Linked DNA regions of Homo sapiens. The protein of the gene in region 1 purifies or fractionates together with the protein of each later gene. This does not show direct contact. Each region holds a gene or a part of one and is shown in the gene's direction. Other genes may lie near its edges.

What was found.
Region 2: the proteins of RAB33B (region 1) and UFSP2 purify together in Homo sapiens (affinity purification with mass spectrometry; one large-scale study listed by BioGRID and IntAct). This does not show direct contact.
Region 3: the proteins of RAB33B (region 1) and CHM purify together in Homo sapiens (affinity purification with mass spectrometry; one large-scale study listed by BioGRID and IntAct). This does not show direct contact.
Region 4: the proteins of RAB33B (region 1) and CHAF1B purify together in Homo sapiens (affinity purification with mass spectrometry; one large-scale study listed by BioGRID and IntAct). This does not show direct contact.

The regions. Positions count from the first base shown.
Region 1 is NC_000004.12:139,457,601-139,466,027, forward strand, and holds part of RAB33B (ras-related protein Rab-33B), read left to right. Parts: intron 1-8,427. UniProt on the Homo sapiens protein: The small GTPases Rab are key regulators of intracellular membrane trafficking, from the formation of transport vesicles to their fusion with membranes.
Region 2 is NC_000004.12:185,409,295-185,415,964, reverse strand, and holds part of UFSP2 (ufm1-specific protease 2), read left to right. Parts: intron 1-97; coding exon 98-255; intron 256-617; coding exon 618-810; intron 811-2,092; coding exon 2,093-2,239; intron 2,240-3,551; exon of another isoform or gene 3,552-6,670. UniProt on the Homo sapiens protein: Thiol-dependent isopeptidase that specifically cleaves UFM1, a ubiquitin-like modifier protein, from conjugated proteins, such as CD274/PD-L1, CYB5R3, DDRGK1, MRE11, RPL26/uL24, TRIP4 and RPL26/uL24.
Region 3 is NC_000023.11:85,959,361-85,964,058, reverse strand, and holds part of CHM (rab proteins geranylgeranyltransferase component A 1), read left to right. Parts: intron 1-6; coding exon 7-394; intron 395-4,698. UniProt on the Homo sapiens protein: Substrate-binding subunit of the Rab geranylgeranyltransferase (GGTase) complex.
Region 4 is NC_000021.9:36,403,956-36,412,382, forward strand, and holds part of CHAF1B (chromatin assembly factor 1 subunit B), read left to right. Parts: intron 1-4,805; coding exon 4,806-4,875; intron 4,876-5,418; coding exon 5,419-5,510; intron 5,511-7,507; coding exon 7,508-7,649; intron 7,650-8,427. UniProt on the Homo sapiens protein: Acts as a component of the histone chaperone complex chromatin assembly factor 1 (CAF-1), which assembles histone octamers onto DNA during replication and repair.

The DNA.
Region 1 (8,427 bases):
CTGGTAAAACAAATATTTAATGAGTAATTGCTGGAAAGAAGACATTTTGATAAGCACAGAGAATTATGATACGGCACAAGGGTCAGCAAACTATGCTTGAGGGCCAAAAATGGTCTTTTGCCTGTTTTTACATGGCCACAATCTAAGAATGATTTTTTACATTTTTTAATGTTTAGGGAAAATATCAAGATTTCATGACATGAAAATCATATGAAATTCAAAATTCACCTAGGTTGTACTACTTTAATCCTTCTTATCCTTGTACTCTCACCCCTCTCTTTGCTCTGAGTCCAATTGGTTTTCCACCTGCACACTTTCTATTAACTGTCTTGTCTTCAAAATTCTAGTTCAAGTCCTTTTTTTAACCTCTCTTTGAACTGTTGCAGCAGCTTAACAGTTACAGCAGCTTAACTGATCTCCCAGTCCTCAATTAATCTATTTTGTACATTGTTGCCAAAATGCCCGATTAATGTTGTACTTCAAGATTTATCTCCCCTAACTCAAGTGCCCTTTATATTATATTCTCCATTATGTTATAAAGTTCCAGCTGGGTGTTGTGGCTTGTGCCTGTAGTCCCAGCTACTCCTGAGGCTGAGGTGGGAGCATTGCTGGAGGTTCAAGGGTACAGAGCACTATGATCGAGCCACTCCAGCAGAGCCAGACCCTGTCTCTGTCTCTCTCTCTTTTTTTTTTAACACGTTTATTTTAGGTTCAGGGGTACATGTGCAGGTTTATTGTATAGTTAAACATGTCACAGGGGTTTGGTGTACAGATTATTTTGTCACCCACATATTTTGTCACCCACATATTAAGCATAGTACCCAATAGGTATTTTTTCTGATCTTCCACCTCCCACCTTCCACCCTTCAGGAGGCTCCAGTGTGTGTTGTTCCTGTCTTTGTGTCCGTGCGGTATTTGGTTTTCTGTTCCTGCATTAGTTTGCTTAGGATAATAGCCTCCGGCTCCATGTTGCTGCAAAGGACATGATCTTGTTCTTTTTGTGGCTGCATAGTGTTACATGGTATGTATATACCACATTGTCTTTATCCTGTCTACCATTGATGGGCATTTAGGCTGATTCCATGTCTTTGCTATTGTAAATAGTGCTGTCATGAACATACATGTGTAGATGTCTTTATGACAGAATGATTTATGTTCCTTTGAGTGTATACCCAATAATGGGATTGCTGGAGCAAATGATAATTCTGTTTTTAGCTCTTTGAGGAATCACACCACTTTCCACAAGGGATGAACTAATTTACACTCCCACCAGCAGTGTATAAGTGTTGTCTTTTCTCTGCAACTTTGCCAGCATATGTTATTTTTTGACTTTTTAATAATAGCCCTTCTGACTGGTGTGAGATAGTATCTCATTGTGGTTTTGATTTACATTTCTCTCATGATTAGTGATGTTGAGCATTTTTTCATATGCTTTTTGGCCACAGATATATCTTCTTTTGAAATGTGTCTGTTCATGTCCTTTGCCCTCTTCTTAATGGGGTTGTTTCTATTAAGAACAAATCCCATCTCAAAAAAAAAAAAAAAAAACCTTCCAGCCAGCCAGATTCCAGTGACTCACACCTGTAATCCCGGCACTTTGGGAGGCCAAAGATCACTTGAGCCCAGGAATTCAAGACCAGCCTGGGCAACATAGTGAAGCCCCATCTTTACCAAAAATTTAAAAAAATCAGCCAAGTACGGTGGCATGTACCTGCAGTCCCCGCTGCTCAGGAGGTAAGGCAGGAGGATTGCTTGAGCCCAGGAGTTGGAGGCTCTAGTAAGCCATGATCACACCATTGCTCTCCAGCCTGGGCAAGAGAATGAGACCCTGTCTCTTAAAAACAAAAAAAGAGTCTCCTCACACCTCCAGTCAGCTTCCTTCTATGAACTCTTTTAGCACCTTACCTGAACCTTTAGATGATTTCTATCTCATTGCATACATACCTGTCTTACCTCCCTTACTAAGTTTTATTCAGGGCAGGATCCATGTCTGGTAATTCCATAGACTTCTTTCAGTGTCTAGTTCAGTTCTTTTTTTTTTTTTTTCTTTTGAGACAAAGTCTTGCTCTGTTGCCCAGGCTGGAGTGCAGTGGCATGGTCTCAGCTCACTGCAACCTCCGCCTTCAGGTTTCAAGCAATTCTCCTGCCTCAGCGTCCCAAGTAGCTGGGATTACAGGCGCCTGCCACCCCACCCCGCTAATTTTTTGTATTTTAGTAGAGACGGGGTTTCACCATGTTGGCCAGGCTGGTCTCAAACTCCTGACCTCGTGATCTGCCGCCTCGGCCTCCCAAAGCGCTGGGATTACAGGCGTGAGCCACCGTGTCCGGCCTAGTTCAGTTCTTAAACCACATAGTAAGTACTCAGGGAAAAGTGTTGAATATATAGAGGCAGAGAGATCAGTTGGTAGGGTACTCTGGAAATCCAGAATTGAGGTGATAAGGGAAAATAAAGGGGTGATAGAAGAGGTATTTTGAAGATAAAGCCAAAGTCTTCAGTAACTGGCTGTTGGTGATGAGAAAGAAGAGGACTAGATGAGTGAGGTTGTGAGTCTGGGTGACAGGAGGTAGGTAGTGGAGCTAAGGGGGACTACGTGGAAGATTGAATTTGGACAGGCTCTGTAACATTATGATTTAGTCATGTGTTTATTGAGATGATCCTATATTCAAATGGAAATACTGATTGGCAGCTACAAATACCGGATTGGCACACAGGAGAAATAATTATGCACATGAAGTTGAAGTTTGGAAGCACGGATAGAACAAAATGTAGCTAACATGCCTAGAGAGAATAGTAGAAATTTTGTTAAATTTTTTTATGGCATGATGAAGATGACATTCAGTGAATGCTGTGTAAATATAAAATATAAATTGGGTTACTAATTATTGTTCTGTGTTGATCTTCATTAAAAGTAAATTAATGTTTATAAGTCAAAAAATATTTTATATGAAGTCACCTTATACCCTACCTTAAAACAGAATCAAATTGATACTTTATTTCTTAAAATGTGGTATTGGTGGTTGGAGAGATACCAAACTGGTTCTCTTGATTTGATTTGATTTGCATTGAAATTCAGTGAATGAGAATATGCGCAGTTCAGGTATCCTAAGAATGCTGAAGAATCTTGTGATCCCTTAGCTCAGAAACTTTTGGGCAGTTTCTGGTCTGAAAAAGACTTTGAATTGCTGGGGTTTGGTCCTGGGGCTGGCATGGTGTAAGTAATATACATTTTCACAGACCCAAGCTTTCCTACTATCTGAAGGATCCCAGGAACCAGGTCAGAATTCCTGTTGTTTTTCTAGCCTGATTTCAGAAGCCTATGATTCTCTTCTGTCACTTCTTACGAAGACGAAGAAGGCAGCATTGGTGTGTATATTCAGAGGTGGTGAGAAGAGAATTACTTACTTCTCTGGAATCAGTGGTCAAGATCTCTTGCTTTGGAGACTGTGTGAGGACTCTAAGCAAATTAGTTTAAGCAGAAAGGGAATTTATTTTTTCATATAACTAAAAAGCCTAGAAGTAAATTTCTCTGTCTGCCAGTTCCAACTGCAGCTCTACATGCCCATTCCTAAACTATGGTAGTGACAGGGAGTGTGGGGGTGCGAACCTCTGATTGGTCAGACGTAGGTCACATGCCCTCCCTGGGAGCCAGTGGTTCATGTGAATGGAAAGCAGGGGAGGGCCGATTCCCAAGGAAAATAGGGTGCTATTAATAGAAGGGAGAATGAGGGTTAGGCTGGAGAAAACAACATGCATTCTCTACAGAATCAGGTAGTCCACGTTTAAATTCTGGCCTTAAGACTTACTCGTTTTGTGGCCTTGGGTGAATTACTTAAACCTCAGTTTCCTCATCTGAAGATTGGGTAATTATTACATAGGGTTGCATATATTAAATAAGGGCATGTAAAGGACTTAGCAGAGTTCCTGGAGTATACATGGAATGTGCTAAGCCCCAAATCAATATTAATAGTTTAAGAGTAAATGCTCATTCCTTCAGGAGAGAGATGGTAGTGGGGAAAAAAAACAGGCAGTGAAAGAATAGGGAAAGAGGATGGATAACTAAGATTACTGTTCCAAATTGTGTGTATTTTTTCCTCTAAGGTGATAACTAATGCTTTCTCTCACTGCTTGCTCTCTTCCTTATCACCATTATTATTCTGTAATTAAATCCTTTATTTAAAAAAAATTTTGACCAGGCATGGTGGCTCACGCCTGTCATCGCTTGAACCTGGGAGGCAGAGGTTGCAATGAGCTGACTTCGTGCCACTGCACTCCAGCCTGGGTGACAGAGCAAGCCTCCATCTCAAAAAAAAAAAAATTTCATATATACGTATAATTCCTTTATATAAAACTTCATGAATCTCTAGTTTAAATTCCAATATCAAGTTTTAACAAAAATGGCAACCTAGCTACTGCTAAATACTAATAGTAGATTCTTGTTGTTGATGACAGCTCTTTTTTTTTTTTTTTTTTTTGACGGAGTCTCGCTCTGTCGCCCAGGTTGGAGTGCAGTGGCACAATCTGGGCTCACTGCAAGCTCCGCCTCCCGGGTTCACGCCATTCTCCTGCCTCAGCCTGCCGAGTAGCTGGGACTACAGGTGCCTGCCACCACGCCCGGCTAACTTTTTGTATTTTTAGTAGAGATGGGGTTTCACTGTGTTAGCCAGGATGGTCTCGATCTCCTGACCTCATGATCCGCCTGCCTCGGCCTCCCAAAGTGCTGGGATTACAGGCGTGAGCCACCGCGCCCGGCCATGACAGCTCTTTTGGTAGTTTTATTATCCAAAATGAGAAATGATCTGACTTTAAATTGATTTAATACTCTTTTTGCTTGACCTAAAATGTTAAAGGTTTTAATCCAAATTTTCCATCCCTGATTAACTATTAAATTTCCTTTTCCCCTATTCTTTCAAAGAACACATTTTTATTATTTCATGTAAAAGACCATCTATATAAGAACTACATAAGAGCTTCTGTTAACAATTTAAGTTGTAAAACAACATCATAACTGGTATTAGTGACATCTCAAGAGAACTCTTTGCTTTTTGTATGTGGAGTAGAAATGTGTGTGTCTGGTGTACAGAATCAAATGGCAAATCTTTGAAATAAATTTTAGCTTTCTGGAGTCTCTCTCAACCTCTACTGATTCTGAGTGCTGCCATTTCATGTATTGGTCTGTGTTCACTTAAACCCTGTTAAAATTTTAAAATAAATAAATTTTAGCTTCCTAAGAAGACAAGTAACAAATTTTTGTGATTATTTGAAAGGAATACTGCCTTTAAAATGAAGAATTTGGGCCAGGTGCCATGGCTCATGCATGTAATCTCAGCACTTTGGGAGGCCGATCAGTTGAGCCGAGGAATTCGAGACCAGCCTGGGTAACATGGAGAAATCCCATCTCTACAAAAAACACAAAAATTAACTGGGTGTGGTGACACACTCCTGTAGTCGCAGCTACTCAGGAGGCTGAAGTGGGAGGATTACTTGAGCATGGGAGGTGGAGGTTGCAGTGAGCCAAGATTGTGCCACTGTACCCCAACCTGGCAAGAGTGAGACCCTGTCATAAAAGATAATAATAATTTCTTTTTGAGATGGAGTCTCTGTCGCCCAGGTTGGAGTGCAATGGTGCGATGTCAGCTAACCGCAACCTCTGCCTCCCAGGTTCAAGCCTATTAAAGGCGTGTGCCACCACACCTGGCTAATTTTTCTGTATTTTTAGTAGAGACGGGGTTTCACCATGTTGGCCAGGCTGGTCTTGAACTCCTGACCTCAAGTGATCCACCCACCTCGGCCTCCCAAAGTGCTGTGATGACAGGTGTGAGCCACCACCCCTGGCCAAGTATATATTATGTTATCTTTATAATGTTTAAAATGGCAATAAGATTGCTGTGAGCACATATTAGCCATTTTTCCTAAGATATTTAAGTATTAAATTGGGAAAAATTTCTCTGAAAATATTTCCTAATTTAACATTTACCAGATGAAAGCGTCTCACTTCCTTGGGTCCAAAAGTATCAGTTTCTCTTCTTTTTTAAACATCATGAACCATTCCACTCATAGCTAAGCCTCAAGAGTTTTCTAGGCTTTGCTTTTCGCCTAGTGTCTGTCTGTCTGTCTCCTTCAAAGTTTTCTCTAGCCTTTTATGGTCAACAGTTTTTAATCAGTTGTCCTGTCGTGTATTGGCTGGGTCTCTCACTGCTCCTTTCCTGTCTCCTTGCCTTCTCATCTCAGTGTGCAGGCCTGGAAGGCAGCAGGCAGCAGTAGCCCTAAGCCTTCCCATCATTTAGTTATTCCATGAGAGAAATTTTGAAGCTTCTTTTTAGATATTCCTTTGTAAATGCCTCATTATTAGTTACGTTTATGGCTCTACAGTAAAGTGTAGAGTTATTTCAGGCTGGGCATGATGGCTTTTGCCTATAATCCCAAAGCTTTGGAAGGCCAAGGTGGGAGGATCACTTGACCCCAGGAGTTTGGGACCAGCCTGGGCAACATAGTGTGACCACCCCCCCACTGTCTCTACAAAAAGTAAAAACTTAGCTGGGTCTGGTGACACGCGCCTGTGGTCCCAGGTACTCAGGAGGCTGAGGCAGGAAGATTGAGCCTGGTAGGTGGAGGCTGCAATGATCCATGATTGTGCCACTGCATTCCAGCCTGGAGGGGCTGAGTGAGACCCCGTCTCAAAAAATAAAAATAAAAAAGGGGTAATTTCATACCTCTGTGTTCTGGAAGACTTGATATGATTAGAAAGCATAAAATTTTGAACGGGATTGATGGGAAGAGGAATACTGTTTTTTTTTTTTTTTTTTTTTTTTTTATACTTTAAGTTCTAGGGTATTCAATGTGCAGGTTTGTTACATATGTATACATGTGCCATGTTGGTGTGCTGCACCCATTAACTCATCATTTACATTAGGTATTTCTTCTAATGCTATCCCTCCCTTCCCCTAACCCCATGACAGGCCCTGGTGTGTGATGTTCTCCACCCTGTGTCCAAGTGTTCTCATTGTTCAATTCCCACCTATGGGTGAGAACATGCGGTGTTTGGTTTTCTGTCCTTGTGATAGTTTGCTGAGAATGATGGTTTCCAGCTTCATCCGTGTCGATACAAAGGACATGAACTCATCCTTTTTTATGGCTGCATAGTATTCCATGGTGTATATGTGCCACATTTTCTTAATACAGTCTATCATTGTTGGACATTTGGGTTGGTTCCAAGTCTTTGCTGTTGTGAATAGTGCTGTAATAAACATACGTGCGCATGTGTCTTTATAGTCTCATGATTTATAATCCTTTGGGTATATACCCAGTAATGAGATCGCTGGGTCAAATGGTATTTCTAGTTCTAGATCCTTGAGGAATCGCCACACTGTCTTCCACAATGGTTGAAGTAGTTTACAGTCCCACCAACAGTGTAAAAGTGTTCCTATTTCTCCACATCCTCTCCAGCACCTGTTGTTTCCTGACTTTTTAGTGATCGCCATTCTAACTGGTGTGAGATGGTATCTCATTGTGGTTTTGATTTGCATTTCTCTGATGGCCAGTGATGATGAGCATTTTTTCATGTGTCTGTTGGCTGCATAAATGTCTTCTTTTGAGAAGTGTCTGTTCATGTCCTTTGCTCACTTTTTGATGGGGTTGTTTGATTTTTTCTTGTAAATTTGTTTAAGTTCTTTGTAGATTCTGGATATTAGCCCTTTGTCAGATGGGTAGATTGCAAAAATTTTCTCTCATTCTGTAGGTTGCCTGTTCACTCTGATGGTAGTTTGTTTTGCTGTGCAGAAGCTCTTTAGTTTAATTAGATTCCATTTGTCTATTTTGGCTTTTGTTGCCATTGCTTTTGGTGTTTTAGACATGGAGTCCTTGCCCATGCCTATGTCCTGAATGGTATTGCCTACGTTTTCTTCTAGCGTTTTTATGGTTTTAGGTCTAACATTTAAGTCTTTAATCCATCTTGAATTAATTTTTGTATAAGGTGTAAGGAAGGGATCCAGTTTCAGCTTTCTACATATGGCTGGCCAGTTTTCCCAGCACCATTTATTAAATAGGGAATGGGAAGAGGAATGTTGTTTAGTCAGTCTCATCTAAAAACAAAGGGTTTTCTTAGGATTAAACTTCTTCTTCTTCTTTTTTTTTTTTTTTTGTTTTTTTGGAGACAAGGTCTCACTCTGTTGCCCAGGCTGGAGTGCAGTGGCACGATTATGGCTCACTGCAGCCTTGATCTCCTGGGCTTAAGCGATCCTCCCACCTCAGCCTCCCAAGTAACTGGAAGCACAGGTGCATGCCACCACTCCCAGCTCACTTTTTTTTTTTTAAGAGACGAGGTCTCACTGGTAGGAACAAAGTAGAGACAAGGTCTCACTGGTAGGAACAAAGTAGAGACAAGGTCTCACTGTGTTGCCCAAGCTGGTAGAGACAAGGTCTCTTTTGGT
Region 2 (6,670 bases), about 46 Mb from region 1:
CTTAATAATAAATACATTTTTGAAAAGTCTTTTTACTTACTCTTTATATTTAGTGTTTAATGCACTACAAGTTGACTATTACTGTTTATCTATATAGCATCAAATAGTAAATATAGATCTTATGCTGGAAATGTCAACCTCCCTGGCAGCTGTAACGCCCATCATTGAAAGGGAAAGCGGAGGACACCATTATGTTAATATGACTTTACCTGTCGATGCAGTTATATCTGTTGCTCCAGAAGAAACATGGGGAAAGTAAGTATTTTTATAGTACCACTGCCACATTTGAATGAGGGCCCTTCCCCAAACCCATGTTTGTATATCCTGTAGGTATACCTAAGGTGTGATTTTCTCCTTGTTTATTATTAACCTAAGAGCCATCTATTAATTAAATGGTTATTTGGAGGAAGTAGGGTAGCATGCTAAAACCTGGAGGATTTCCCTTTATCCACAAAGAGCAAATACACAGTTTCTTTTATAATGTATAATTCAGACTTCCTTTAGCAAACCTGGTCCAATCAAGTTTTTTACTATACTAAGGATATATTAGCTCTGTACTTTTCTTTATTGTAGTCACTATAACTTTTGTTAATACACTTATATATTTCCCCCCACAGAGTTCGTAAACTCCTGGTTGATGCAATTCATAATCAACTAACTGACATGGAAAAATGTATTTTGAAATATATGAAAGGAACATCTATTGTGGTCCCTGAACCACTGCACTTTTTATTACCAGGGAAAAAAAATCTTGTAACAATTTCATATCCTTCAGGAATACCAGATGGCCAGCTGCAGGCCTATAGGAAGGTAAAACCAGTTCATCTATTCTTAGAAAAAACAATAATGACTATCATTCATTTTGTATTTAATTATATATTTCCACTAAATGGAAGGTATTTTGTGATTTAACTTAAAAGTGTGGAATTTAGACTATTCATTTTACACATTATTTAATTTCTGTTCTCATGAAACTTTAAGTAGTATTAATGACAAAATGTTATGTTGAACCTATATGTAACATTTTAATTTTAAATGCTCGGTGTGGTTCATATATTCTGTGAAATTTTAATATTTTTCCATAATGAAATATAGAAATGGTGCTTACATGCCTAAAGTTGCTGGTATTAACAGATTTCTATAACTTTCCGATTTGTGAAAGAGACAAGATTACAGTTAGGGAAGGAAAATGATAACTTATGCTAATTCTGAATAGGATTTATGGTAATACTCCACAAGTAAGGTTATTTGGGCTTTATTAGAGGAATTTTGGAGAAAACATGACCAGCATTCAAAGTAATGAGATTTACTCATGACTGGTTTTGGAGTGCATCTTTTTGATATGTGGACTCGCTTAGAACCTATCAAATTAGACCGTGGAGCATCTTCCTAATTTCTGTCCTTAGGGAGAGCGAGAATACCCTGACCCTCTGTATGTGGAGGTGACTTGGTTTGTAGAAGCAATAGCTACAGGAGCTGATCTTTTAAAACCACTGGAGTACAAGATATGATAAAGAACATGTCAAACTTTTTAAAATACCTATTACATGTTTTTATATAGTTGGGAAAATAACACATTTTAAACATATATGTGTATTTGTTTTCCTGCCATATTGGTTGGCTTTAGACCACTAACTTCTACTCTGTAGTTTAATCACTACCACTTACAATATAAAATATTTGTAAGGCACTCGACACAATTTTGCAAAATACTTTGATATAATTATTGTTAATTATAATTTACTCATTTACAAGGCTATTTCAAAACCAGTCTTTAGCCTGGATGTATTTTAACAGACTATGTTGTAATAAATAATTATTTAAAAATTAGTTCTCTTACTCTAACAATTTATATTCATTTTTCTCTGTTCCCTTCCAGTTTCTACCCAGATACAGACGTAAACGAAAATAAATCTTACTTGGTTTTAGTTCAGTTTTCACCATCTTTGATGTTAGTGAATTAAACCATAAGTGTTTGGAAACTTTTATAACCTATATATAATTTTCCATGTTTAATAACATCTTTATTTATTGACTAGGAATCTAAATCACCAACATTTTTTCTTTTTCTGTTGATTCTGATTTATTTTAGGAGTTACATGATCTTTTCAATCTGCCTCACGACAGACCCTATTTCAAAAGGTCTAATGCTTATCACTTTCCAGATGAGCCATACAAAGATGGTTACATTAGAAATCCACATACTTACCTTAATCCACCTAACATGGAGACTGGTATGGTGAGTTTAACTAATTATTTATGGGAGTCACTGGATCAGTAATGTTATTAGTTGTTTTTTGTTGGTACCCAGTAGGAGACTTGATTCATTATGTATTCATTCCTAAAACATGATTTATCACCCATCTCTGTTAACAGACATTGCTTAAGATAGCAGTAATTAAAAATGGTCTAGAAAAGTTAGTAATAGGTAGATATACCACATTTATCTTACTAAAATTCTCTTATTTCTTTAAAGGCTTGTCCCATTTTTTTTCATTCTGAACCTGAGAAATCATGCTAATTAAGGGCATAGTCTACCCAAACCACACTGTAGGATAAATCTTTTTTTGTTTTTTTGAGACAGAGTCTCGCTCTGTCACTCAGGCTGTAGTGCAATGGTGTGATCTCAGCTCACTGCAACCTCCGCCTCCTGGGTTCAAGCAATTCTCCTGCCTCAGTCTCCTGAGCAGCTGGGGTTACAGGCACCTGCCACCACACCTGGCTAATTTTTGTATTTTTAGTAGAGACAGGGTTTCACCATGTTGGCCAGTAGCTAGGGTTACAGGCACCTGCCACCACACCTGGCTAGTTTTTGTATTTTTAGTAGAGACAGGATTTCACCATGTTGGCCAGGCTGGTCGTGAACTCCTGACCTCAAGTGATCCGCCATGTAGGCCTCCCAAAGTGCTGGGATTACAGGCATGATTCACCATGCCCAGCCACTGTAGGATAAGTCTAATGAGGAACTAGACTTATTTTCCATGTAACATATACCCGGTTGCCAGGGATAGATCCTCCCTAAAGGTAGCTCAAATAAGAGTGAATTGGCGGAGGGTGGTGGAAGGGTTACTTTAAGGATACATGGAGGCCAGTGAGAAAGGACCTTATAAGGCATCCAAGATTAGGAATACCAATAGAGCTGGGCCTCTTAGAAACAGCAGCCCTGTGACTAGCAGGTGTCTTCAGTCTCTCTCAAGGACTCCGTGGATACCTTGGTGGCATTGCTATTGCTTTCTGTGTATGCTTGTGATCCTAACTGGCCTGTTCTTAACTTTTACTCTGTCTGCTCCACCTCATACCCTCTGTATCCTCACTGTTTCAGCTTGTGTGTCACTTTTTCCTGTTCTTCCTCAGCTGCCCAGTGTATGCCTCATTCCAACTGCATTTCCTGCTCCTGGCTGCCTGGCTAACTCTGCACCTCTCAGTTCAGATTCCCAAGAGAAAGAAAACTTGGCTATCGTATGGTGGCATTTATTAATACCTTCTGAGCGTCCAGGACTTTTGAGGAAATCTTAAGAATTAAAAAAATGCATATACGATACAGTACGTACCCTAGATGAGTTAGGGGCCCACTTGTGGTCTTGGTCATTAGAGTGTACTCAGGGCAGCAGATCATCTGCAAAAGCTGTGGGCCAACCAGCTTCCATAGAAAGTTCCTCACAAAAAGAATAGTTCCTTAGAAGAACCTGGACACACAGAAGGTATTGAATGAGTACTGATTGCTTTTTGACAATAAAATAGGTTCATTATATCTGTATTACAAGGTCGTAAGAAAAATATATACTTTACATATTTATCATGTAATATTTGATATGTACATATAACATATGCAAATTGTAAAGCACAGTGGGGAAATGAATACCAGGGAGCTCCTCCCTAATTTAAGAAGCAAAACTTTACCAGTCTGTGCTCTTTCCCTACCCACTCCTCTGCCTCCTCGACACAGTTCCAGGAGGAACTATTATGGGTTTTGTGTTCATCATTTCCTTCCTTTTTAAAAAGTAGTTTCAGCGTATATGTTACATATCAATCTCAGCAATGTCGCTTTTAGTATTGCATAGTTCTGAGTTTTATAAATATGGTATCATTCTGTACGTAGTCTCTGCAGCTTGCTTTTTCACTCAATATTACATATCAAACATCTCTGGTATTTTGTCTAACCATAGTTAATTATCTTTATGATTTTTTCCAAGTTTTTTTGCTGTTTAGACAATGAACATTCCTATACCTCTCGATACATATGTGCAACAGTTGTTAACATTTTGCTATATCTGCTTCATTTCTCCCTCTTTTTTCCCCCTCTGAACCATTTCAAGGAAAATTATAGATATATTATTTACCCTTAAATACTTTGGCACAAATCTCTCAACAATATAGATGTGCATTCATGAAATAAACTCGGTTTGGTTATGACTCATTATTTTTTATTCCCCTCTGGATTCCATTTGCTAATATTTTACGATTTTTGCATCTATGTTCGTGAATGATACTGGCTTATAATTTTCTTCTCTCATACTGTTCTTATTTTGTTTTTTTATTAGTGATATACTGGTTTACTAAATTAGTTAGGTTAATGTTCCTTTTTTAGTTTTTTAGAGAAGTTTATATAAGAGTGGTATGATCTTTCCTTGGTCATTTGGTAAAACTTGCCTGTAAAACAATTTTGGCGTAGCATTTTCTTTGTGAGAAGATTTTTAGTAACCAATTTAGTTTTGGTAACAGCTTTAGGACTTTTTGATTTTTATAAGTTATTTACCTAGGTTTTAATATATCTTGTAGTCATAATATTTTCTTTTTCATTCTTCATATCATTTTTATGCCTTGTGTCTTTTAAAAAAAAAAAAACTTTTGGCTTTGTTGGCCCCCTCTATTATAACTTCTGTATTTGATTTTATTAATTTTTGCTCTTTACTTTCTTTTTTTTTGCTCTTTCTTTGATTTATTGTCTTTCTTCTAACTTCTTAAGTTGGACATGTTAGCTTATTGCTAATATTTCTTTCTTTCTTTTTTTTTTTTTTTGAGATGGAGTCTTGCTCTGTTGCCCAGGCTGGAGTGCAGTGGCACAATCTTGGCTCACTGCAACCTCCGCCTCCTGGGTTCCAGCGATTATCCTCCCTCAGCCTCCCAAGTAGCTGGGATTACAGGAGGGTGCTACCACGCCTAGCTCATTTTTGTATTTTTTAGTAGAGATGGGGTTTCACCGTATTGGCCAGGCTGGTCTCAAACTCCTGACCTCGTGATCTGCCTGCCTCAGCCTCCCAAAGTGCTGGGATTACAGGCGTGAGCCACTGCGCCCGGCCTAATCTTTCTTTTTTTTGAGATGGAGTCTTGCTCGGTTGCCCAGGCTAGAGTGCAGTGGCATGATCTCAGCTCACTGCAACCTCTGCCTCCCTGGTTCAGGCAATTCTCCTGCCTCAGCCTCCCCAGTAGCTAGGATTACTGGCAATAGCCATACGCCTGGCTAATTTTTGTATTTTTAGTAGAGACAGGGTTTCATCATGCTGGCCAGGCTGGTCTCGAACTCCTGACTTTAGGTGATCTACCCACTCGGCCTCCCAAAGTGCTGGGATTACAGGCATGAGCCACCGTGCCTGGACAGCTTTCTTATTTTCTAATGTAAGCTTTTAAATTTCAAGCAAAGCACTGCTTTTAGTGTATCTTATAGGTTTAATTTGAAGGATTTTAGTTTTGTTCACTTCTAAGTATTTTTATATTTTTCTATTATGGTTTTTCTTTTGTCCATGTATTATTTAGAAGTGTTTGTTAATGTCCAAATATGTCAGAATTTATTTTTCTTTTTTGCTTTTTTTTTCTTCTTGTTTTAACTGGTTTCTGACTCTTGCCTCCTGGTCAGAAAGAATTCTAAGTGAAACTAACTCTGAAATTTATTGAAACTTGTATTTGTTCCCTAAAAAATAATAACATATTTGATGGCTTAAAACTACAAAAATGTATTGTCTCAGTTCTGGAGTTCTGAAAGTAGTATCACTGGGCTGACATCACAATGTCAGCAGGACCACCTTCCCTCCATAGGCTCTTGGGGAGAATCCATTCCTTAATCTGATGGCTGCCAGCATCCTTTGGTTTGTGGCCCCATCATTCCGATCTCTGCCTCCTCAGTCACATTACCTTCTCCTCCTATGCCCCTCTCTTTTAAGAATATATGTGATTGCATTTAGGGCACACTAGGATCCAGGATAACCTCCCCATCTTAAGATCCTTAATCACGTCTATGAATACCTTTGCTTTCCTTTTTTCTTTTACTTTTTGGCACAGAGGGTGCATTCACAAGTTCCAGGGATTAGGACATACATACCTTTTGGGAGCCACTTTTCAGCCTGTCACAATGGTCAAGTTATAAATTTTTCTATCTGTGCTTGGGCAGAATATATATTCTCTAATTGTTGGGTGAGGGTTGGTTCTATCTTGTCCCTATCTCCTCTCACTTAATTTTTTAAAAATATCATCAGTTTGGAGCCAGGCATGGTGGTGTGCAACTGTAATCCCAGCTACTCAGGAGGCTGAGGCAGGAGGATCACTTGAGCCTAGAAGTTCAAGACCAACCTGAGCAACATAGTGTGACCCAATCTCAAAAAAATAAAAACAAAAACCCAGTTCTTTAATAAAAAAAGACATATACATTCTTAGCACTATAAGTAAGAATTTATAT
Region 3 (4,698 bases), on another chromosome or scaffold:
TATTAGTCAGGATTTGCATGAAGATGTCGAAGAAGCTGGTGCACTGCAGAAAAATCATGCTCTTGTGACATCTGCAAACTCCACAGAAGCTGCAGATTCTGCCTTCCTGCCTACGGAGGATGAGTCATTAAGCACTATGAGCTGTGAAATGCTCACAGAACAAACTCCAAGCAGCGATCCAGAGAATGCGCTAGAAGTAAATGGTGCTGAAGTGACAGGGGAAAAAGAAAACCATTGTGATGATAAAACTTGTGTGCCATCAACTTCAGCAGAAGACATGAGTGAAAATGTGCCTATAGCAGAAGATACCACAGAGCAACCAAAGAAAAACAGAATTACTTACTCACAAATTATTAAAGAAGGCAGGAGATTTAATATTGATTTAGTATCAAAGGTAAGTACTAATTTTACCCATCTTTGCATTGAAAACAGTATCTGGGCCCATAAACCCAGTTTTTGTAATTCTCTGAGATGCAGAACATTTGTTTTGTAAAGAGATAGTAGCCAGATGTTTGTAATTCATTTAAAATATTCCTTAAGTACAAATTAAAAACATATTTAAAGTGCTCACATGAAAATGCTTTAATTATGTTTTTAATCTATACCTGAAGAATACTTTTGTGCTTGAGCACATACTACAACCTAATATTCTCTGGACACTATGAATTCTATCAAAAGAAAAATTCTAATGAACCTGTTTAGAAATCCATGTTATTTACAGTCAATTTCCATCGATTCTTTTAGCCTTTATGTATAGTAACTATTTTCACAACTGTATGATGATGAATACTCAGAATAAACCAATGAATTTTTAAAAATCGTGTTCACATGGACACAGCGAGGGGAACATCACACACCAGGGCCTGTCGGGGTTGGGGGTTAGGGAAGGGATAGCATTAGGAGAAATACTTATGTAGATGATGGGTATGTAGATGACGGGTATGTAGATGACGGGTTGATGGGTGCAGCAAAACACCATGGCGTGTGTATACCTATGTAACAAATCTGCACTTTCTGCACATGTATCCCAGAACTTAAAGTATAATTTAAGAAAAAAGTCTCAAAAAAATCATGTGTTCAGGTTTGAAAGCTTCAGAGGAAAATTTAATAGTGATGGAGGCAGGAAGGCTGGGAAGAAAGCTATTGTCTTCGGTTATGTTCCTGAACATAACTAACTTGAATGTTAGTTCACTGTAACTTCACAGGAGGTCCCTCCATCTTAGAAGCGTACAATATTGCATTTGGTTTATAGGAAGCAAGACTATTTTTAGTGCAAAAGAATAGAAAATCAGTAAGATAAAGGATTATGGCCTTAAAGGGTCATGATACAGGACAGGGTAAAAGTAGAGAAAAACAGACTAAATCCTATAAGTTGAGAGCTAACAATAAGTAATTGAAAAGAAGTAGGAGAGGATAGTGAATAGCACAAGACTTGCCACAGAACTAGCACAGAACTAGGCTTTTCAATTTAATGTACTTTCTTCAAGTTCCAAGTGATAGGGGACAGAGAGGGACCAAAACATTTCCCTTGACAAGTTGTTTCTGCAAATCCCATATCCTCATACTCTTGCTCCCTTTGAACTTGATGCCTGAAAATATAAATATCTTTTTACTACCCATTTTTCTTTCTGTCTGTCATGTAGCACTCTGTGTCTGATTTTGCATAGTTGGCTATTGCATTGGTTCTACTTCATACTTCCGTACTATCTCTCCCACCTCCATCTACTTTGACCCTGTCATGATTTGAAATCTAGCATTTTTTCCACATTACCTTGGCTGTTCATCTGTGGATGGAAGTTTAATCCTAGCTCACTAATAACCTTCCTGGTCCCATGAGCAGTACTCTATGAAATAGGTTAAACAAAACATAAAAACTGAACAAGTCAAATAACAAATGGGCTTTGTGTGACAATTCCATTTTGAAGTAATTACTTGGAATTTGGAATGTTTTACCTAAATAAATGATGATATAAATGTGGTTAAGAATCAAGGCTATTTCATAAAAGTCTGTAACTTTTATGTTAGCTGAAATTTAGTATATATCTTGCAAAGGGAAATGGTAGAAGACGGTGCTGTTTCAATTGTAGGAATTGGTGTAGAAAATTATTCAGTTGTATAAGAAAATGAATGCTGGTTGTGGGAGGAAAAAGACAATTGAATTAGAAGTTGACACATTTGAAGATACCCTGAAGGAGACTTCTGGGTATTTTCATCGGTTTGAATGGTTAGTAATAACCAGTTCTCTTATGGTAAGTAAAAACCAAACATGTCTAGAGGCAGTGGACTAGGCAGTTGGGACTGCGTCCTGCAGAGTTTCATGGGTTCATACGTTCTACAAAATAACTAATAAACATTTAATGTACTCATTTTCAAAACCAGAAGTATCTTAATCACATATAACCATAGTAATACAGGAGATTAATTTTCCGTTTTTAAAATGTTAAGTCATTTAATACATATTCAGTGCATGCTAGATGGAAAGCAATGTATTCCATGTTATTGGGGCAATTGGTCACTCCTTAGAAATTTTATCTGTTCTAATAATTGCAGTTAATAAACGTCTAAGTTTAGGATGATTGCCAAATATCTATCTTAAAGCCCTAAAGCCCTACCTCCTTTTTTTTTTTTTTTTTTTTTTTTGAGACAGAGTCTTGCTCTGTTGCCAGGCTGGAGTGCAGTGGCGCCATCTCTGCTCACTGCAACCTCCGTCTCCTGGGTTCAAGTGATTCTCCTGCCTCAGCCCCCTGAGTAGCTAGGACTACAGGCGCGTGCCACTATGCCTGGCTAATTTTTGTATTTTTAGTAGAGATGGGGTTTCACCATGTTGGCCAGGATGGTCTCGATCTCTTGACCCCGTGACCTGCCTGCCTTGGCCCTCCAAAGTACTGGGATTACAGGCGTGAGCCACCGTGCTCGTCCAAAGACCTACCTCTTTTCTAAAGTCCAACTCAGTATCTCCAAACTAGTTGACATTTCTATATGCGTTCAACCTCAAAGACATCATGATATAATTAAATACTGTGGGGCTTTACAGTTGACAATACACATTCATGTATATAGCCTTTTAAAAAGTAATAGCTCAAGGTAGGTTAGTTAAATAAAATACGTATAGTGTCATACTGCTCAGACTAATAGAGAAGGTCAAAGATGAAATTCTTAAAATGAAAGCTCATTTCTAAGTAAGTCCATACTCTTAATAATTATGGAACCAACATGCTAAGGAAAAATTGTTAATTAATAAATCTAATTTCCATTATTGTAATCAAATTGCACTGCTCTTTAGCCCCTCATCACTGTGGTAGATCGCTTAGAGGGTAGTGAAAAAGAGGCTTAGGCTGAGCGTGGTGGCTCAGTCCTGTAATCCCAGCACTTTGGGAGGCTGAAGCGGGCGGATCACCTAAGGTCAGGAGTTCGAGACCAGCCTGACCAACATGGTGAAACCCTGTGTGCTACTAAAAATACAAAAAATTAGCTGGGCGTGGCATTGCATTCCTGTAATGCCAGCTACTCGGGAGGCTGAGGCAGGAGAATCGCTTGAACCTAGGAGACAGAGGTTGCAGTGAGCTGAGATTGAGCCACTGCACTCCAGCCTGAGCAGCAGAGAGACTCTGTCTCAATAAAAAAAAAAGAAAAAGAGGCTTAGATTCTGATATGTACACATTTATTATTTGTGAGCTTCAGAAACAAAAATCTAGTATAATTTTAATTGAAATTTGTTTTTGTTCTTGTGATATCTTAAATGCATTATTTTTCAAGCTGGCATTAAACCTTAAGGTTTATTGGATCTTATTAAATAAAAATGCAGTTTCATATTTTATATCTTAATGTTTGTGACATTATTATGGCTATGCAGGGATCCTTGAGTCTCAAATGTGTATCTTTTTAAACAAGTGATTTTTGAAGTAACTATTTTTTATCATTATTATAGAGTTAAGAATTGGCAATATATTCTTTAAAACATGGTCTCTTTCAGTAATGTAGTGTGTTAGGAAGAGGGTAATGAAGTAACGTGCCATATTTAATCAGGATGATCAGATTAGCTTCAAAAAAGTGATGTCAATTTTGTTTTGCAGAATGCTGAACTATTAGTTTATAAAATTTTACTTGAATGGTATTGATTTACTGATAGTCTTTACTGACTTATTAGTTGCTCAGACTAATGGTTTAGATTGATTTTTGAGATTCCTTTTTCTTTGTATAGTAAAGCTAATTTTCCCATTTATTTATTATAGATGTAACATTCATTTTTAATATTTATTGAGTTATAGGCATTAAGAGTATCTTAATATAGGAAATAGTCAAATCTGTTGCATTTAACCATACGGTTAACATGCTAGATAATACTGTTTACATTATTGATTTTATCTCTCTGATATTACTTATGAGATGTTGAAAGATTAAATCAATTTCTCCCATACATGCCAGCAATAATCATCATCTTCACTTTTTGAGAAAGACATATCTCATATAAACCCAGACTTCTAGAATTACAGAAGTACCTTATAATTTGACTTTTTCAGTGTAAATGCATCACAAATATTTTTTTCTTTTTTTGATGGGGTAGGGAGGTTCACTGGACTGATTTCTTCTTATAACTACCTGGCTTTGTGTAAGACTATAGATTCTTATCCAAAACCCTCAGGGCCTGGTGTATTCTATCATTAAGATTAAAAAAATATATTTTAGAAAGTAATGAAG
Region 4 (8,427 bases), on another chromosome or scaffold:
GGGGCTTTAAAGAACACTGCGGAACATGTGCGAATGACACTTTGGCCCAAGAAGTCTCAGGACTAAGAATAAGTAGTTGTTTAGGTTATATTTACTAAAGTTAGTTATTAAAAGTTATTCACTAAACCCAGTAATAAATCCTTTTTTTTTTTTTTTTTTTTGAGACTGAGTTTTGCCCTGTTGCCCAGCTGGAGTGCAGTGGCACGATCTTGGCTCACCACTGCAGCCTCCGCCTCCCAGTTTCAAGCGATTCTCCTGCCTCAGCCTCCTGAGTAGCTGGGATTACAGGTGTGCGCCACCACTCCCAGCTAATTTTTGTATTTTTAGTAGAGACGGGGTTTCACCATGTTGGTCAGGCTGGTCTCAAACTCCTGACCTTGTGATCCGCCTGCCTTGGCCTCCGAAAGTGCTGGGATTACAGGCTTGAGCCACCACGCCCGGCCCTTTTTTTTTTTTTAAATTATTTATTTTATTTATTTATTAATTTATTTATTTTGAGATGGAGTTTCGCTCTTGTTACCCAGGCTGGAGTGCAATGGCACGATCTCGGCTCACAGCAACCTCCGCCTCCCGGGTTCAAGCCATTCTCCTGCCTCAGCCTCCGGAGTAGCTGGGATTACAGGCATGCGCCACCACGCCCAGCTAATTTTGTATTTTTAGTAGAGACGGGGTTTCTCCATGTTGGTCAGTCTGGTCTCGAACTCCGGACCTCAGGTGATCTGCCCACCTTGGCCTCCCAAAGTGCTGGGATTATAGGTGTGAGCCATTGCGCTGGCCTTTTTTTTTTTTTTTTTTTTTTTTTTTAAAAAGCAGAGTCTCGCTCTGTCACCCAGGCTGGAGTGCAGTGGCACCATCTTGGCTCACTGTAGCCTCCACCTCCTGGGTTCAAGCGATTCTCCTGCCTCAGCCTCCTGAGTAGCTGAGATTACAGGCGCCTGCCACCACAACCAGATAATTTTTGTATTTTTAGTAGAGATGGGGTTTCGCCATGTTGGCCAGGCTGGTCCCAAACTCCTGACCTCAGGTGATCTGCCCACCTTGGCCTCCCAAAGTGTTGGGATTACAGGTTACAGGTGTGAGCCACTGCGCCCAGCCCCAGTAGCAAATCCTTTACTATTTGGCCACTCTAAAAATATTTTCAATTAAAATCAAGTAGCAAATGGATGTCTGTTATCAACGTTATTGTTCTTTGTGGTGTTAGTAAGTGTGGGAAAAACAGGAAAATGAAATTACAAAGATTGGAAAAGAACAGATAAAAAACTGCAATAGGATTGTATTTCTAGAAAATCCAAGAGATTTTAAAAATAGTATTAGAATTTTTAAAATAATTTGATAAGATGGCTGGATATTATAAAATATATAAAAATTCCTATCTTTCGTCTATATTGGCAGTGAGTACTTAGAAATGGAAGGAGGAGAAATATTTCATTCAGAGTAGTGCAAAACCTGCAAAATACATAGAGTAAATTTATTTATTTATTTATTTTTTGAGACAGGGTCTCACTCTGTCACCCAGGCTGGAGTACAGTGGTGTGATCATGGCCCACTGCATCAGCCTTGATCTCCTGAGTTCAGGGAATCCTCCCACCTCAGCCTCCCTACTAGCTGGGACCACAGGCGTGTAGCACCATGCCTGGCTAATTTTCTTATTTTTTTGTAGAGACATGGTCTTGCTATGTTGCCCAGGCTGGTCTTAAACTCCTGGGCTCAAGCACCCCTTCCGCCTCGGCCTCCCAAAGAGCTGGGATTACAGGTGTGAGCCACCACACCCAGGCAGAAGTAAATTTAATGAGAAAGGGGCAGGACCTTTATGGAGAAGTCTAGAAGGTCTTACTGAAGGTTATAAAGCAAGTTCTGAACAAATGGAAAGATATGTCGTGTTCTAACAATTAACATACTAATTTCATTTCCAATTAGAATTGCATTAAAGTTTTTTTTTAATTGGATGAAATCTCAGCTTTGTTTAGTAGAATAAATGCTGAAGAATAGCCAAAGAAGTATTAAAAAAAAAACAGTGATACTTGGGAGGGCATTTGCCTCACCACATATCAGAAGATCCTATAACACTACTTTTAGCCAATCAATATGGTGTTGCTATAGGACCAAACAAATAGATTAGTGGACCAGAACACAGAATCCAGAAAAAGATCTCAGGATATAAGGCGATTTAATATATGACCTCAGGTGCTGTTCCAGTGGAAAAAAATCTATTATTTATTTGTAATTAATTGTATGTTACTTAAATAATTCTCAAGAGAATTAGACACTGAAGGCAGATAGGACAAGAGTATGTCATTAAGAAGGTTGGGAAGTGTTGAGATTGGACAAAGACCTATTCCTCTTTTTTTTGAGAGGGTTTCACCCTTGTCGCCCAGGCTTGAGAGCATTGGCGTGATCTTGGCTCACTGCAACCTCCATCTCCTGAGTTCAAGTGATTCTTCTGCCTCAGCCTCCCAAGTAGCTGGGATTACAGGCGCCGGCCACCATGCCCAGCTAATTTTTGTATTTTTAGTAGAGATGAGGTTTTACCATGTTGGCCAGGGTGGTCTCAAACTTCTGATCTCAGGTGATCCACCCGCCTCAGCCTCCCAAAGTGCTGGGATTACAGGCGTGAGCCACTGCACCTGGCCTCCTTTTTTTTTTAATTGACAGATGAAATTGTATGTAGTTGTGTATGACATGATGTTTTGAAGTATATATATGTTGTGGAATGACTAAATCTAGCTAATTAGCATAGCATGGTCTCACATAATTAGGATTTCTGTGGTTTGAACGCTTTATATCTCTTAGCATTTTTCAGGAATATAATACATTGTTATGAACCATAATCACCATGTTGTACAAGAGATGGATCTTGCAAAGGGAGGACTCTATTATTGAATGAGTAGTGCTGGGGTAGCCAGCTATGTGGAAGAAGGTAAAATTGGACCCCTTGCCTAGATGTAAAAAATAAATTCCAGGTGAATTCAGTACTTAAACACAAAAGGTAAAAATAGAAAACTCTTGTAAGGAAATATAGGAGGACATTCTAGGAATGGAGAAGACCCAATTAAGACTGGAAACTGGCTGGGCATGGTGGCTCAAGCCTGTAATCCCAGCACTCTGGGAGGCCAAGGTGGGTGGATCACCTGAGGTCTGGAGTTCAAGACCAGCCTGGCCAACATGGCAAAACCCTGTCTCTACTAAAAATACAAAAATTAGCCGGGCATGGTGATGCACACCTGTAATCCCAGCTACTCAAGAGCCTGAGGCAGGAGAATCGCTCCAACCCAGGAGGCAGAGGTTGCAGTGAGCCAAGATCGCACCACTGCACTCTAGCCTGGGCAACAGAGTGAGACTCTGTCTAAAAAAAAAAAAAAAAAGTATATGTTCAAGGATGCTTATTGCAAGCATTGTTTATAGTGGTAAAAAACCAAAAGCCAAAAAAATACTCATTAACAGAGGCTGGGTGAATGAATCTTGCAGTAAATATTATGCAGCTACAAAAAAATAATGCATCAGTGCTATGCAAGTTAACTTTCATGAGTAGTTGATTGAAACAAGCAAAATAAGGAGAAGTGTCAGTTTTGTAAAACAAATGGACTCAATAAAAAATATCATAGAGGTATACATGTGATTGAGTTATAACTGATTGTAATGATTATGTGAGCATGGAGGAAATATACAGATGACATAATGGTTTGTTGAATGTTAAAATGGATTTCTTGGGGATGGAAGAATGGAGTGGGATGAAAAGAGGGGCCTGGGTGCAGTGACTCACGCCTGTAATCCCAGCACTTTGGGAGGCGGAGGAGGGCAGATCACTTGAGGTCAGGAGTTCGAGACCACCCTGGCCAACATGGTGAAACCCCCTCTCTACTAAAAATACAAAAATTAGCCGGGCATCGTGGCAGGTGCCTGTAATCCCGGCTACTCAGGAGGCTGAGGCAGGGGAATTGCTTGAATCTGGGAGGTGGAGGTTGCAGTGAGCCAAGATCACGCCATCGCACTCCAGCCTGGGTGACAGAGCAAGACTCCATCTCAAAGAAAAAAAAAAGAGGGCAGCTATGTAGAATGTATTAATAATAATAATAAAAAAGACTATTGATACTGTCTACTGCCCTCCCTGGTGGATATGAAACAGTCATATGTAAAGTTACGTGTGTGTATATGTATCAAGAAATAGCATAAAACAGGGAGATGTTTCCAAGAGCAGCAGTGTATGATGGTCACTCTGACAGGGCTGAACTGTTTTAAGTACAGCAGGGGGTGAGTGTAGAAGAGCTCTCAGATGGGGACTGTTCCCCAGAGTGAAGTCAGGTTCTGAAGGAGGCTGGAGGTTTCAGCAGAGGGCAAGGTCTCCTGGCAGCCTCATGGCTGGATAGGGAAGTTGGGGAAAGGCGAGTCTCAGCCTTTGGATGGCATCCAAGGCTGGAATCCAGGAAATAGAGATGAGGGTCCTAGGGAGAAAGGAGCCTGGGCAGCTGAATCTAGTCACGGTGCTTCAATCGAGGAATTGCCTGGAGGCTCAACGGTGCCCTATGGCAAAGGCTCACTATGTTCTCCTCGCCCAAGATCAGAACCAGGTCCCCGGGGATTGCCCACAGGTAGGTGGAGATGACAGGTAGGTAGAACTGGAGTAAGGGCTGAGAACAGACAGTGCCGGAATATATGTTTTTGTGCTCTGTCACAACATTGTCCAGAGAATATAACTGCAGGGGGAAGTATTTTGCAAACCGGACCTGAAGGCTCTTGAGTTTCTGTTGGTGAACAGTTTGCTGAAACAGTGACTTTTCTTTCCTCTCCCTCCCTTCCCTGTTCCCCAGCTGGATGTGTGGAATCTGGTGAAAATGTAATGAATACCACTTATGTTTTCTCCAGGAAGAATCTTAAAAGGTATGCAGTCAAGGAAATGTTTGAAATGTTTACATTTTTTTTAGACGGAGTTTCGCTCTTGTTGCCCAGGCTGGAGTGCAATGGTGCGATCTCTGCTCACTGCAACCTCTGCCTCCCGGGTTCAAGTGATTCTCCTGCCTCAGCCTCTTGAGTAGGTGGGATTACAGGTGCCCGCCACCACTCCTAGTTAATTTTTGTATTTTTAGTAGAGATGGGGTTGCACCATGTTGGCCAGGTTGGTTTCAAACTGCTGACCTCAAGTGGTCCGCTTGCCTCGGCCTCCCAAAGTGCTGGGAATACAGGCATGAGTCATTGCACCCGGCTTGTATTTTTTTTTTTTTTTTTTTTTTAGTAGAGATGGGGTTTCGTCATGTTGGCCAGGCTGGTCTTGAACTCCTGACCTCAGGTGATCCGCCTGCCTCCTCCTCCCAAAGTGCTGGGTTTATAGGTGTGAGCCACCGCGCCCTGCCAAAATGTTTACCTTTTATTTTTGCTTTTGCTTAGTCACAGTGCCTTTTCCTAACACTGCAATTAATCCATTAGGCCCATCGCTCATCTTCCATGTCCTGGAAAAGCCACTCTTGCTGTTCGCTGCTGTCCGGTCTACTTTGAACTGAGGCCAGTGGTGGAAACAGGTATCCTCAGAGCCTCAGGGGTGTGTTATGTTTTCTCTCCGAAACAGGTCACCAGAGTGGGGTGGAGATTTGGATTCTGTCTTATGGGGAAAGGTGGGTATCTGGGTTTGGTTCAGTTCAGTTATTTTAAAAATATTTTATTTTTACATTTAAATCTATTTATTTATTTATTTTGAGACCAGGTTATCAGCCTGGTTAATTTTTGTATTTTTGGTAGCGACAGCGTTTCACCATGTTGCCAAGGCTGGTCTTGAACTCCTGGACTCAAGTGATCCACCTGCCTCGGCCTCCCAAAATGCTGGGATTACAGGTGTGAGCCCCTGTGCCCGGCCTGGTTTAGTTATTTTTAAAAGCTGGAGCAAAGACTGGGGTTATCAAAATACATGTCAGTTTTTTTTTTTTTTTCTTTCTTCAGGATATATTTTCTTGCTTAAGGCACTTTAAAAGGAATGGACGTACTCCTTTTGTTTGTCTATGTCTCTCATTATCAATTTTCTTTTTCTTTTTTTTTTTTTTGAGATGGGGTCTTGCTCTGTCGCCCAGGCTGGAGTGCAGTGGTGCAATCTTGGCTCACTGCAAACCCTGCCTCCCAGGTTCAAGGGATTCTCCCTCCTATCCTCCAGAGTAGCTGGGATTACAGGCGCATGCCACCACACCCAGCTAATTTTTGTATTTTTAGTAGAGATGGGATTTTGCCATGTTGGCCAGGCTGGTCTCGAACTCCTGACCTCAGGTGATCCACCCACCTTGGCCTCCCAAAGTACTGGGATTATAGGCGTGAGCCATCATGCCCAGCCATTTTCTTTGTTTTCTTGTGCTTGGGGTTCATTGAACTTCGTAGATCTATCCGTTTATAGTTTTTATTACATTTGGGAAGTTTCAGCCATTTTTCCTTCAAATGTTATTTCTGTTATTCCCTTCTCTTATTCAAATACTCCCATTACACATGTATTATATTAGGTCCTTTGAAATTAGTTCCTGGCCTTTGATACTACTTACTTTTTTTGTTTTTTTCTTCTTCCAGTGTTTGATTTTGGAAGTCTCTATAGCTGTGTTTTGAGTTTGCTAACCCTTTCTTCTGCATGCTCTGCCCTTGGTCCCATCCAGTGTGTTTTTCTTTGTTGTGGTTCTCATCTCTAGAGATTCACTTTGGGTTTTCCTTATATATTCTGTGCCTCTCCATGCTCCATTTTTCCTCTTGCTGCTTTCTTTTTTTTTTTTTTCTTGCTCTGTTGCCCAGGCTGGGGTGCAGTGGTATAATCTCGGCTCGTTGCAGCCTTCGTCTCCCAGGTTCAAGTGAATCTCCCACCTCAGCCTCCCAAGTAGCCAGGATTACAGGTGTGCGCCACCACACCCAGCTACTTTTTTTATTTTTAGTAGAGGCAGGGTTTTGCCATGTTGGCCAGTCTGGTTTCGAACTCCTGACCTCAGGTGATCTGCCCGCCTCAGTTTCCTCTTGCTTCTTAAGCATATAGAGTGCAGTTATAATAGCTCTTTTAATGTCCTTGTATACAGGTTGGTTTTGATTTTTTTCTCCTCATTGTGGGTCATATCTTCCTGTTTTTGTTTGCCTGGTACTTTTTGATTAGATACTAGACACTGACTTTTACTTTAGTGGATGCTGGATGTATTTTTATTCTTATAAATATTCTTTTTTTTTTTTTTTGTGACAGAGTCTTCCTCTGCCACTAAGGCTGGAGTACAGTGGTGCAATCTGAGCTCACTGCAACCTCCGCCTCCTGGGTTCAAGCGATTCTCCTGTCTCAGCCTCCTGAGTAGTTGGTACTACAGGCACACACCCCCACGCCTGGCTAATTTTTGTATTTTTGATAGAGACGGGGTTTTGCCATGTTGCTTAGGCAGGTCTCAAACTCCTGAGCTCAAGTGATCCACCCGGCTCGGCCTCCCAAAGTGCTGGGATTCTAGGCGTGAGCCATTGCACCTGGTCAGAAGCCTTGTTTCTGTGGTTTTACTTTGTCTCTGTCCCCAACCCCCAGGTGTGGAGCTGATGAGTCTGCCCTACCGCCTGGTGTTTGCTGTGGCCTCGGAGGATTCCGTGCTTCTGTATGACACCCAGCAGTCCTTCCCTTTTGGTTACGTGTCTAATATACATTACCACACCCTCAGTGACATTTCATGGTGAGTGGCTGCTAATGAGGGAGAGTGAGTGAAGGAGACCGTGGCTGTATCCTGGAAGACACCCCGGGGTTAGGGAGCATTTCATTACTAAAGATGGCTTTGGGGGACATATTCACCAATTTTGTTTCTTATTTATTTTTTTGAGACCAAGTATCACTCTGTCACCCGGGCTGGAGTGCAGTGGTGTGATCTCGTTTCACTGCAACCTCCACCTCCCAGGTTCAAGTGATTTTCATGCCTCAGCTTCCCAAGTAGCTGGGATTACAGGTGCGCACCACTACGCCTGGCTAATTCTTGTGGTTTTAGTAGAGATGGGGTTTCGCCCTGTTGGCCAGGCTGGTATCAAACTCCTGGGCTCAACGATCCTCCTGCCCCAGCCTCCCAAAGTGCTGGGATTACAGGCGTGAGCCACCACGCCCGGCCCCAATTTTGTTTTTTAAAGGAATCAACATTAAAAGGAAAGCCGTTTCTAGTTTGCCACAATACTTGCTTCTTATTTTCACACTGGTGGGTTTTGATGGCATTCAGATTGCCTTGTGGGGTTAACTGGACTTTGATAAACTGAGGGGAGGCCTTGTAGACTCCCTGGCCATTTGGGGACTTCTGAGGCCCTCTGGGAGGAAGCCCTTCCCTGCATGCCCCTGCTGCCCAGGACAGGGAAGTGCCCCAAGCTGGGCCTGTGTAGAGGATGTCACTCAGCACTGTCCTTCTGCCACCTTTTGGTCCCCAATTCAGCCCCCGTGGCCTGCTTGGCCCAGTGTGAGGTTTTTTTTTTGAA